Homo sapiens: one gene and its partners. The protein of the gene in region 2 interacts with the protein of the main gene of each other region in a pairwise test. Each region holds a gene or a part of one and is shown on either strand. Other genes may lie near its edges. The genes, in order: FBXO38, ABL2 and ZMAT1.

Region 1 (3,656 bases), on a different chromosome or scaffold from region 2:
CTGAGGAAAGGGAGAGAGACAGGGGAACAGCCTGTTGGGAGAGCAGTCAGGACACACACAACATTTATTAAGTTCACTTATATTGGTGCAGTTTGTGGCACCCCACAATTAAAACAGTAACATCAGAGATCATTGATCATAGACCACCATAATGGATAAAATAATAATGAAAAAGTTTGAAATACTGCAAGAATTATTAAAGTGTAACCCAAAGACTCAAAGGGAGCACGTGCTTACTAAAAAAATGGCACCAGTAGATGCTCAATTCATGGTTGCCACAGACCTTGTGTAAACAGTGTAATGTCTGCGAAGCACAATAAAGTGCAATAAAATGAGAAATGCCTGTATATGTATATATATACATGACATATGCACACACCCACACACACAGTACAGGGTCTGACCTCTAGTAATGCCTAGTGATGTTAATTTGTATTATGTTAGTGCACGTTGAGCATCTCTAATCTAAAAATCAGAAAGCCCAAGTGCTTAAAAATTCAAAACTTTCTGAGCACTAACATGATGCTCAAAGGAAATATTCATTGGAGCAGCATTTCAGATTTCAGATTTTTTTGATTAGGGTAAGTATATAATGCAAATACTCCAAAATTTGAAGAAAAATCTGAAATCTAAAACACTTCTGGTCCCAAGCATTTCAGATAAAGGTTCGTCAACCTGTATTGCCAAAAAATATTGAGGTCTATTTTGTTTTATATCTCCTACCATATTAGTAGTAAACAAAGAAATCCCATTAAAAGGTATTTACCAAACATATTGTCATAAACTGAGGAGAACCCAAGAAAGGAGAGATGAAACTGAGATTCAAGCACTACTTCTCCTCTGAATTCTACAAAAGTTCAGACCTTGGGGACCCCAGACTCTATTGTTTACTCTGAAGTAGTAGTACTTTTCTCTATCCCAGCCAATGTGGTCTTTGGTCCTAAAACATCTTAAATTACTATCTCCTATTGGAGTTTCCTTTTACAGTGGAGAACACAGGCTCTTCAAAAGCTCAGAGATTGTAACAGTAGGGGTACTCACCCTAGCCTTACAGTAGCACTGGAAGAACTTTCATTCTGTCAGTACCTACACCCTTTGAGCTCTGAGAATGTAAAACTCAATCTTCAGACTCTGCCAGTCGGCATCTCGTTCCATTCCTTTCTCTACTCTGAGCTCTCCGAGAATCTGACTAGTTTTCTTCTTTTTACTTTGATGATTTCTCCTGTACCTTCTCTAACCTAATGATGGATCACACGGCCTCAGGCCCAACCTTCTCCCCTTTAAACCAAATTGTTTGGCTCAGCTTATCGTGGTGAGAGGATCTTAGCTTAGTCTGTAGGTAGTGGCTAAGTTAATGACAGCGGAGATGATTAAATGAGATTAGAACTGACCTTAGTCATGTCGGATTTTATAGCTAAGAACCACTGGATCCTTACTGTCATCTAGCGCTCTCCTTTCCTCTGTTGCTGTCCTCAACAACAGTTCCCCTTCTTTCCACCAAGTCACAAAAGGAGAAAATGAACGTGAGAGGCGGGAGTCTCTCTCAGTGTTTAAATGTCAAGTTAGTTACATTAGATTGCACAAGACGATGATGACATTTGGGTCAAGGATGTTACAGATGTCTGTGAAATGTTAAGATCAGACAAATGAGCCTGTGGTTTTATAATCTTTTCCATTTGATCTCTCTCAAGTTGGACCTGGTTGAAATCTGCAGTGAAAATTGGACCAGGTTGAAATTGGAGATTAAAAAAAGAGAAGGAAATATTTTTCTGAAGTTGATATACTAGTTCAGTTAAATGTGTTTATTATATCAAAATTACTTTTTTCTGACTTCATGTTTTATATGTCAAACAGAAAAACTAATCATGTTTTAGATGAGCATTTCAATAGAACTTTAATGTTCTGTGTCTACACTGTTCAGTATTATGGTAACCACTAACCACATGGCTACTAGATTGGACTGAATAGCTTTAGACCAAAGTATCCAAATGTGTTTCTGGGTCTTTTTTTTCAAGGTTCTACTTTTACGTTTGTGACAGGAATTAAAATCCAACTCTGCTCATTCCTGAGAGTGAATGTAAGGTAACATAGGTGAATTATTTCAGGTCTGACTATTGACTATAAAAATGTATAATAGTTACTCATTTTTTAAATAAATATTTCCTAAACAGTTTCTGTCTGGGCAAGTCATTTTCTGAGACTTGGTTTTCTTAACAGTAAAATCTTAGAAAAAGGCACTTTAATGCCCCTTCTACCTTCTTTTGAATTGAACAGAACCACATTTTCAAATTTTTTTGTTAACTGTGATTTGTACTCTATGATATTATTTGACCTCTGTTAAAGATGTTTGTTACTGCAGTATTTTGTGCCAACAAAAATTAGGCCATCTCTCCAAAGATGATATGTACGGAGCTTACCATTGTTTTCATTTTGTAGCTACCAGGTGCAGGGTACTAAAACATTTAAAGGTAGAAAATGCACCAATTGTAAACCGATTTGACTATGCACAGTGCAAGAAACTGAACATGGATCAGGTACTAGACCAGATACTAAGAATGCCACCCGAGAGAAACCGCATCATATACCTACGCCCAATGCAGCAGGTAACGAGCTTTGCTTCTTTCCGATGATACACATATTGTGGTGTTTTTCTTTTTCTTTTTCTTGTTAGTCTTTAGCCTTTTGGATTTGGCATTCATTCACTTGCCCAACCTACAGTAATGATATTTTAGTTTTTACAGGTTATGTATGATATAGGGAGTTGTTATTCAACAGGTTTTTATACTTATTAAAAGTTACCTGTGGTTTAAGAGCACAGTCTCTGGTTCAGACTGCCTGATTAAATTTCTGGCTGTCTGACCTGTAGCAGATTATTTGACTTCGATGTCTTAGTTTCTTCATCTGTAAAATTAGAATAATAATGATATACCCAGGATTATTGTGATATTTAATATATGTGAAACTCTAAAACATGTGCTAGTATATAGTAAGCCATCATATAACTACTGTTAGTGTCATTATCATTATTAAGAGTATATTGTATATAAGGTTCTGTGCTTAATGCCAAAAGAGGGTTTAAAGGAAATTTTAAATGCCTCTTTGTAATCAGTGTGTAAGCCTGGCCTCAAAAGAGTCAGTTCATCATATTGTCAAGTGTCTCAAAACTTAAAATATGCTGGGTGCAAATAAAAACACAACACATGATCCTTCCCTCAAGGAGTTTGCCTTCCCAAAAAGGAGACAAACACTTATGCCACGCAGATGGCCGAGTGAGATTTCATAACTAGAGATGGGGGAGGGTATGCCATGAGAAAAAAGCAATGTTATCAAAGGCTCCTAGAAGACAAGAAAATGCATTCTCTCTTAAAGACTGGGCAGCAGTCTCATTTGAATAGGGTATATGTTACTACACATTCACAGTTCTATAATGCAGTCAGTACTTAATAAAGGACATACACAGAAGTGGATTCTGAGTTGACTGACGTCATTTATCTCAATCAGGATTCTCTGGTTTAGTAGGCATTTAAATATAACAGTGAGATATAAATTGCCAAGTTCCCTAGACAGAAGAATTTGCAAAATTATTCCCAGCATGACAGACTGTTTTCAGGTCTGAATGTGACTATTTGATTTTCAAATCAGCCAGAGATTTCAAA
Region 2 (3,656 bases):
GTCTCAAACTACTGGCCTCAAGTGATCTTCCCATCTTAGCCTTCCAAAGTGCTGGGATTATAGGTGTGAGCCACCATGCCTGGCCAGAGAGCTCTCTTTATTTTGCCAGCACTGTATCCAAGATCCTTTTTCACCATCTAGTGGCTTTTTTTTTTTTTCCTTCTTGAGACAGGCTGGCTCCATCGCCCAGGCTGGAATGCAGTGATGCGATCTTAGCTTACTGCACCCTCAGCCTCCTGGGCTCAAGCCATCCTCCCACCTCAGCCTCCTGAGTAGCTGGGATTACGGGAATATGCCACCATGCCCGGCTAAGTGTTTTTTTATGGTTTTTTTTTGTTTGTTTTGTTTTTTGTTTTTTTTTTGTAGACTGGGTTTCGCCATGTTGCCCCGGCTGGTCCTGAACTCTTGAGCTCAGGAGATACACCCACCTTGGCCTCCCAAAGTGCTAGGATTACAGGCGTGAGCCACCACACCTGGCCTAGTGGCTGAATTTTTAAAATAGTTTTCTGCATTAGTAAATAACTTAGTCTTGTAGAAAAGCATCTATTGCTCACCTATCCCAGTGTACTTATAAATAGGGACCCATTTTATAAAGCCTGCTTTATTCCGCATCTTGATGAGTGCTCTACAGTGACATATCATTAGTGGCTTTCTAAGGTGTTAGTGATTATCAGAAGATACTACCATATTTGTCAGCACTTACTTAACTCTGCCTATAACACAAAACCAAGAATAGAGTGTTCATGACCATTTTCCTCACCATCTGAATGGAATCACATTAGGGTTCTCTTTCCCACAGAGATCTTGCAGCTCGTAACTGCCTAGTGGGAGAAAACCATGTGGTAAAAGTGGCTGACTTTGGCTTAAGTAGATTGATGACTGGAGACACTTATACTGCTCATGCTGGAGCCAAATTTCCTATTAAGTGGACAGCACCAGAGAGTCTTGCCTACAATACCTTCTCAATTAAATCTGACGTCTGGGGTAAGGTTGAAAGGGACTTTTTTCTGTGTCATTTTATTTTTTTTTTTATAAATGCCTTGATTCTTTAGAGCTTCTCTTACGATGTTCAGTATCCTCTACCTTTACCTGCCATTCTTCTTCAGTTATTCAGCAAGCATTTGTTAAATACCTCCTATCTGCCAGGACTGTGTTAAGAACTTTGCATAAACAGAAGTATAGGCCTGGTGTGGTGGCTCACGTTTGTAATTACAGCACTTTGGGCCGAGATGGGTGGATCACTTGAGGTCAAGAGTTCGAGACCAGCCTGGCCAACATGGTGAACTCCCATCTCTACTAACTACAAAAATTAGCCAGGCGTGGTGGCATGCGCCAGTAATCCCAGCTATTCAAGAGGCTGAAGGCTGAGGCAGGGGAGTTGCTTGAGCCTGGAGGGCAGAGGTTGCAGTGAGCCAAGATGGCGCCACTGCACTCCAGCCTGGGCAATAGAGCGAGACTCTGTCTAAAAAGAAAAAAAAAAAAAAAAGTATAAAGAAGAAAGTTTAGGGCCAGGCACAGTGGCTCATGCCTGTAATCCCAGCACTTTGGGAGGCCGAGGCAGGTGGACAACCTGAGGTCAGGAGTTTGAGACCAGCCTGACCAACATGGAAAAACCCTGTGTCTACTAAAAATACAAAATTAGCTGGGTGTGGTGATGCATGCCTGTAATCCCAGCTACTTGGGAGGCTGAGGTAGGAGAATCACTTGAACCCGGGAGGTGGAGGTTGCGGTGAGCTGAGATCACACCATTGTACTCCAGCCTGGGCAACAAGAACAAAACTCTGTCTCAAACAAAAAAAAAAAAGAAAGAAGAAAGTTTTAAAAAAGAAGTCCCTGCCTTCAGAGAGCTCACAGTCTAGATCTCTTATTGCATTGGAGTGCTAATGATCCTCCCTCTGTAAAGCATCCTATTTCCACATTAGGTTTTTTGTTTTTATTTTTGAGACAGAGCCTTGCTCTGTTGTCCAGGCTGGAGTGCAGTGGCACAATCTCAGCTCACTGCAACCTCCCATCTCCCGGGTTCAAGCGATTCTCCTGCCTCAGCCTCCAGAGTTGCTGGGACTACAGGCATGCATCACCATGCCCGGCTAATTTTTGTCATAGTAGTAGAGATGAGGTTTTGCCATGTTGGCCAGGCTGGTCTCGAACTCCTGACCTCAAATGATCCACCTGCCTTGGCCTCCCAAAGTGTTGGGATTACAGGCATGAGCCACTGTGCTCAGCCTCACATTAGGTTTTATCACTCATTTGCAGAGTACTGTGACACAGAGCTTTTTTTTTTTTCGAGGGAAGTGTGATGAGGTTTCCTCTAGAATTTGTCCTAATTGATCTGGTTTCTACTGCTCTGAGAGGTAATATGATTTGGTTGAAGCTTAGTAGACTGAACAATCTGGAAATTTGGATTGTGGACCAATAGAAATAGTCATAGGATTCTAAGTCATTTTTTACTGGAAATCTCAAACTCAAATAACTGAGACAAAATCAAACAAATTTTTTTCTGCTCTGAATTTTATCTGATTTTAAATGAATCCATTTTTATTTTACTCCTCTTGTATTAGCTGACTTTAAAACTGTTATGCTTCTTAGATACAGTGGTTCTCCTTTATCCTCAGGAGAATACATTCTAAGACCCCCCCCTTGGATGCCTGAAACCAAGGATAGTGTCAAGCCCTGGATATATAATCTTTTTTTGATCTGATAACCGAGAGGTCTTCTCAGTGACTAAGGGGTGGGTAGCATCTACGGTGTGGATATGTTGAGTAAAAGGATGATTTATGTGCGAGGCGGGAAGGAGAAGCATGGCTTGAGAGTTCATCATGCAACTCAAGGCAGCATGCAATTTAAAACTTTAGAATTGTTTATTTCTGGAATTTTCTATTTAATATTTTTGGACCTTGGTTGACTGTGAGTAGCTGAAACTGTGGGAAGTGAAACCATGGATAAGGGGTGACTACTGTATATCAAAAACTTTTCTAAGAATAGTTGGATTATGCCTCAGACTTCTTAAATGGTCATAGTTTATTTTCCCTCATTACAGTAAAGGAAATCTAAATAAAAATTGGGAAATTTAAATAAAACTGTCTTGAGATTATCTGCAGCATTCCTGTTGCAAATATTTTAGAAGGACAAATCATGCTGTAAGAATTGATAAAAGAGTATATTATATATTAATGTTGTTGTAACAGTGTGTGAATGTTACCTAAAATATGAAAGAGAATCACCTAATTATGTAAAATAAATAATCGGAGAAGAAACACTAAGTGCTTTTTTTAATTCCTTATGCAGCTTTTGGGGTATTGTTGTGGGAAATTGCTACCTATGGAATGTCACCATATCCAGGTATTGACCTGTCTCAGGTCTATGACCTACTAGAAAAAGGATATCGAATGGAACAGCCTGAGGGATGCCCCCCTAAGGTTTATGAACTTATGAGAGCATGTGAGTATTTTTGCATGTTTTAATTTTGAAGGCATAAGCTAGCAGTTCAGAATAGTTAACAAAATTAGAAACATTTCTCCTCTCAGTGTTGTTAGATTGAATCCAGCCTCATGACATTTAAAGAGTTTATCATTGATCAGCCAGTTGTCATATCATATACCATTGAATCTTATTGGAATCCTAAGCATAGTTGTTATGGCCCAAATATTGACCCAGTT
Region 3 (3,656 bases), on a different chromosome or scaffold from region 2:
GTACCTTTTAGGTGAAATAAAAAACGGTCCATAGTGGTTACATAATTTGCTGAAGGCTATATAGTTGTGGGTAAAGATGGGATTTGAATCTGTTTGACCAACTCAGAATCTTATTTATTTTTTTCCAACATCCCAGTACTGTAGGTCATAGTTTTTCTCCCCATTACAAATTATTATGAAAGATTTATTTTCTTAGGTCATGAAAACATTTCTTGTAAGAGGGAAATGAAGAGGTAAAACACTCTTATTTATAGAAAATTGGAGTTTATTCATTTCTCCCACCAAATGCTGAAGCCACACTTAAATGTAATCAAATACATTACTGGAATATATGAGCTCTCTGATCAGATCCCATTTATAATTTGTCACAAAACTACCATTTCATTTCAAATAACCATCATAAATGTTATTCAGAAGTGGATTGTTTATGTCATGGTAGCAAAACAACCATCACTTGCTCATGCAGTTTCCTCTGAGCAGCAGGTTGACTCTGCAGGGCAGCTGTCCTTCATGCAGTGATTCAGATGCTTTTATCTTTTATTTTTTTCAATATTTTATTTTATGTTTTATTGTAAAATATGCACACCATAAACTTTGCCATTTTAAGTGTGAAATTCAGTGGCATTAACTACATTTACATTGCCAAGCAAGCTTCACCACTGTCCATCTCCAGAACTTTTTCATCATCCCAAATTGAAACTCTGTACGTATAGGTCATAGTTTTGTTATATGACCATATTTCTCCACTCTGAAGAACTTTCTGATGTATTTATGGAAAGTAATATATATTTAAAAGTCATGCTTAATTTGTTAACAGTTGGCAACTTGAATAGTTTCTTATTACCACAAAGCACAGCATTGCAAAGCAATTTTACCCTCTTATACCCTGAGTATAAATGGGACCATCTAGTAAACATTGGTCTTATCTTTTCCACATCTTATTATTTTTAAACCCTTACTTCATTATCAGATATAGGTTATCTTCCCATTTTGAACCTAGGTTTTGATAGTACTTTCTTATTCCCCATTGCTTTTGTTTCATGTTAAAATGGAAATAAATGATATCAGCATCAGAAATTCCTGTATATTTTAAAGATGGTATATTCCACTTCATACTTGAGAGCATGCCTTTGTGTCATTAAGATCTCAATACCAAGTTTCACTAAAGTAGGCTCCTTGGCCGGGCACGGTGGCTCACGCCTGTAATCCCAGCACTTTGGGAGGCCGAGATGAGTGGATCACCTGTGGTCAAGAGTTCGAGACCAGCCTGGCCAACATGGTGAAACCCCATCTCTACTAAAATTACAAAAATTAGCCGGGCACAGTGGTACATGCCTGTAATCCTGGCTACTTGGGAGGCTGAGGCAGGAGAATCACTTGAACTCGGGAGGCAGAGGTTGCAGTGAGCCAAGATCTCACCACTGCACTCCAGCCTGGGCAGCAGAGTGAGACTTCATCTCAAAAAACAAAAAAAAACTTGCTCCTCTATCCTTATCTCTTTTCCAAGTTTATAGTAGCATAAAAAAATTCAAATGTACCAGGGAATGAAGAACAGTTGAAAAATTCTAGGCTAGAAATATTGAAAAAATATGCCTAAAATTAACCAGGAAGTATTTACCATACCATTTTCAAAGACATGTATTTTTTCCAGATGAGACTTGAAATCATACTTCACAATATTTAGTATGTTGTCATTTGATATTCTAATGTGTAATCTGTTTATATTTTTAACCCTAGCTCTCCTAATTTCTTTCTTAATTAGATTGAAAGATAAAAGACCATCTGCCATGAATTTTGTACATTTATCATTGGGGAAAACTCAACTGTTGTACCTAAATCATAACCAAAATACTAATTTTGCAGAAAAATTTCTTTTTAACTCTAGTTGCAATTATTAAAATATTACACTTGGTAATAGAAATGCCTCATAGATCTTTACAAAGAGATATTTTGGAGAGAACCAGCTTTAGGGTTAGGACATAGACAAGAAAATAAAGATAATGGAAGATTAAGAGAAGAAATATTGGGACCCTTTGATTTTTTAGGCCCTTAAAGGTTTGTGTTAACTGTATAGCTGCTTAAAACTTTAAATCATCTTCTGTGCTTCGTATTTGGAAGCAGCTAGGTGTTTGGGTCCTCTGTAAGTACCCCACCAAAATTTTGCTTCCGTATATATTCCAATCTAAAATATATTTTTTCATTGATCACCATCAACCCATATAAAGTCAGGTAGAAACAGAAATCTGAAAGGCTGTGATATGTTCTTAGTCACACAGCTAGTTAATAGCAGGGTGAAAACTAATGCAGTCTCTCTCATCCTAATGCTTTTTACAACTCTTACTATTGGAATTAAGAATCAGTATAAACCCACACTTAACAACCAACCAATAAAAATAGATTTATTTCATATTCTAATCAGTTAAGGAAGAGAAAAGACATGGTGAGAGTATAAAGAAGAGAAGAGAGGAAGATGCCCCCAAGTTTCTTCAGCTATCCCTTGGTTCCCATTTCTACTAGAATCAGCTCCTAAGTCCCAATTCTATGCCAGAACAGTTTTATTCCTGGCAGGTAGTGAGTTCTCAGTAAGCATTAGTTCCTGTCCCAGTCATCTTCCTCACAGTCAACATTATCTGCTCACCTATCCTCTAATTGAACATCTGCTCCCTGAGGCTGGCCTTTCCTCTAAGCTGTCACCCTGAAACAGGCTGAAAGACATCTGTATTGTCACCAGTTTCCTCTCGACTTCCAGAATTGGCTATTGGTCATTTTTTTCTGGGAGTCCAAAAATCATGTCTCAAATAGTGGGGGTTGGGGGTCGGGTGGATCGAAAGAAACATTTAGCATCTCTTGTGAATCAGACATATGTTTCTTACATATGTCAAGCCTGGAGATCAAGTCTCTTTTTAAGATTAGCCTTGCCTGTAATCCCAGCACTTTGGGAGGCCAAGGCAGGCGGATCACCTGAGGTCAGAAGTTTAAGACCAGCCTGGCCAACATAATGAAATCCCGTCTCTACTAAAAATACAAAAATTAGTCGGGCATGGTGGTGCACGCCTGTAGTCCAGCTACTTGGGAGGCTGAGGCAGAAGAATCACTTGAACCCCGGAGGCAGAGGTTGCAGTGAGCCAAGATCACACCACTGCACTCCAGCCTGGATGACATAGCAAGATTCCATCTCAGGAAAAAAAAAAAAAGGCCTAGCCTTTCTAAGAGTGAGCTCAGGGAAATCTTGGGCAGACTTAGATTTGAATCCTGGCTTTGACACTTATCAACTGTGTGACTTTGGGCAAACTGTTTAACCTCTCCAAGTCTTAGGTATGACTTTTAGAAAGTGGACATCATCAAATTCATGTCAAATTTAGAGGAAATGCAACCTGAGGAGAATGTGGCAGTGTACAGTAGCCTCTGGAAAACAACACCCATTTTATAAATTTGTTCTCAGTGGAAACCCCTCTTCCATGAGCCTCCTGGTGGCAGATTCTAGAAGATCCAAAAAGATCTTGAAAGCCTGGAAATGGTTGTTTGACTCTAAGAAGGTGAAACTTAAAATAAAAAATATAAGTATATATTAGATCTGTTTGGGATCCAATAGAATTTCTATCTAACTATGTCCTAGAGGGATATATTTTAACCAGTTCTAGATCAAAAAGAACCAC

The links.
Region 1: the proteins of ABL2 (region 2) and FBXO38 interact in a two-hybrid assay, tested with the Homo sapiens proteins (one large-scale study listed by BioGRID and IntAct).
Region 3: the proteins of ABL2 (region 2) and ZMAT1 interact in a two-hybrid assay, tested with the Homo sapiens proteins (one large-scale study listed by BioGRID).

The regions. Positions count from the first base shown.
Region 1 is NC_000005.10:148,435,896-148,439,551, forward strand, and holds part of FBXO38 (F-box only protein 38), read left to right. Parts: intron 1-2,436; coding exon 2,437-2,603; intron 2,604-3,656. UniProt on the Homo sapiens protein: Substrate recognition component of a SCF (SKP1-CUL1-F-box protein) E3 ubiquitin-protein ligase complex which mediates the ubiquitination and subsequent proteasomal degradation of PDCD1/PD-1, thereby regulating T-cells-mediated immunity.
Region 2 is NC_000001.11:179,114,660-179,118,315, reverse strand, and holds part of ABL2 (tyrosine-protein kinase ABL2), read left to right. Parts: intron 1-799; coding exon 800-984; intron 985-3,285; coding exon 3,286-3,438; intron 3,439-3,656. UniProt on the Homo sapiens protein: Non-receptor tyrosine-protein kinase that plays an ABL1-overlapping role in key processes linked to cell growth and survival such as cytoskeleton remodeling in response to extracellular stimuli, cell motility and adhesion and receptor endocytosis.
Region 3 is NC_000023.11:101,921,934-101,925,589, reverse strand, and holds part of ZMAT1 (zinc finger matrin-type protein 1), read left to right. Parts: intron 1-3,656.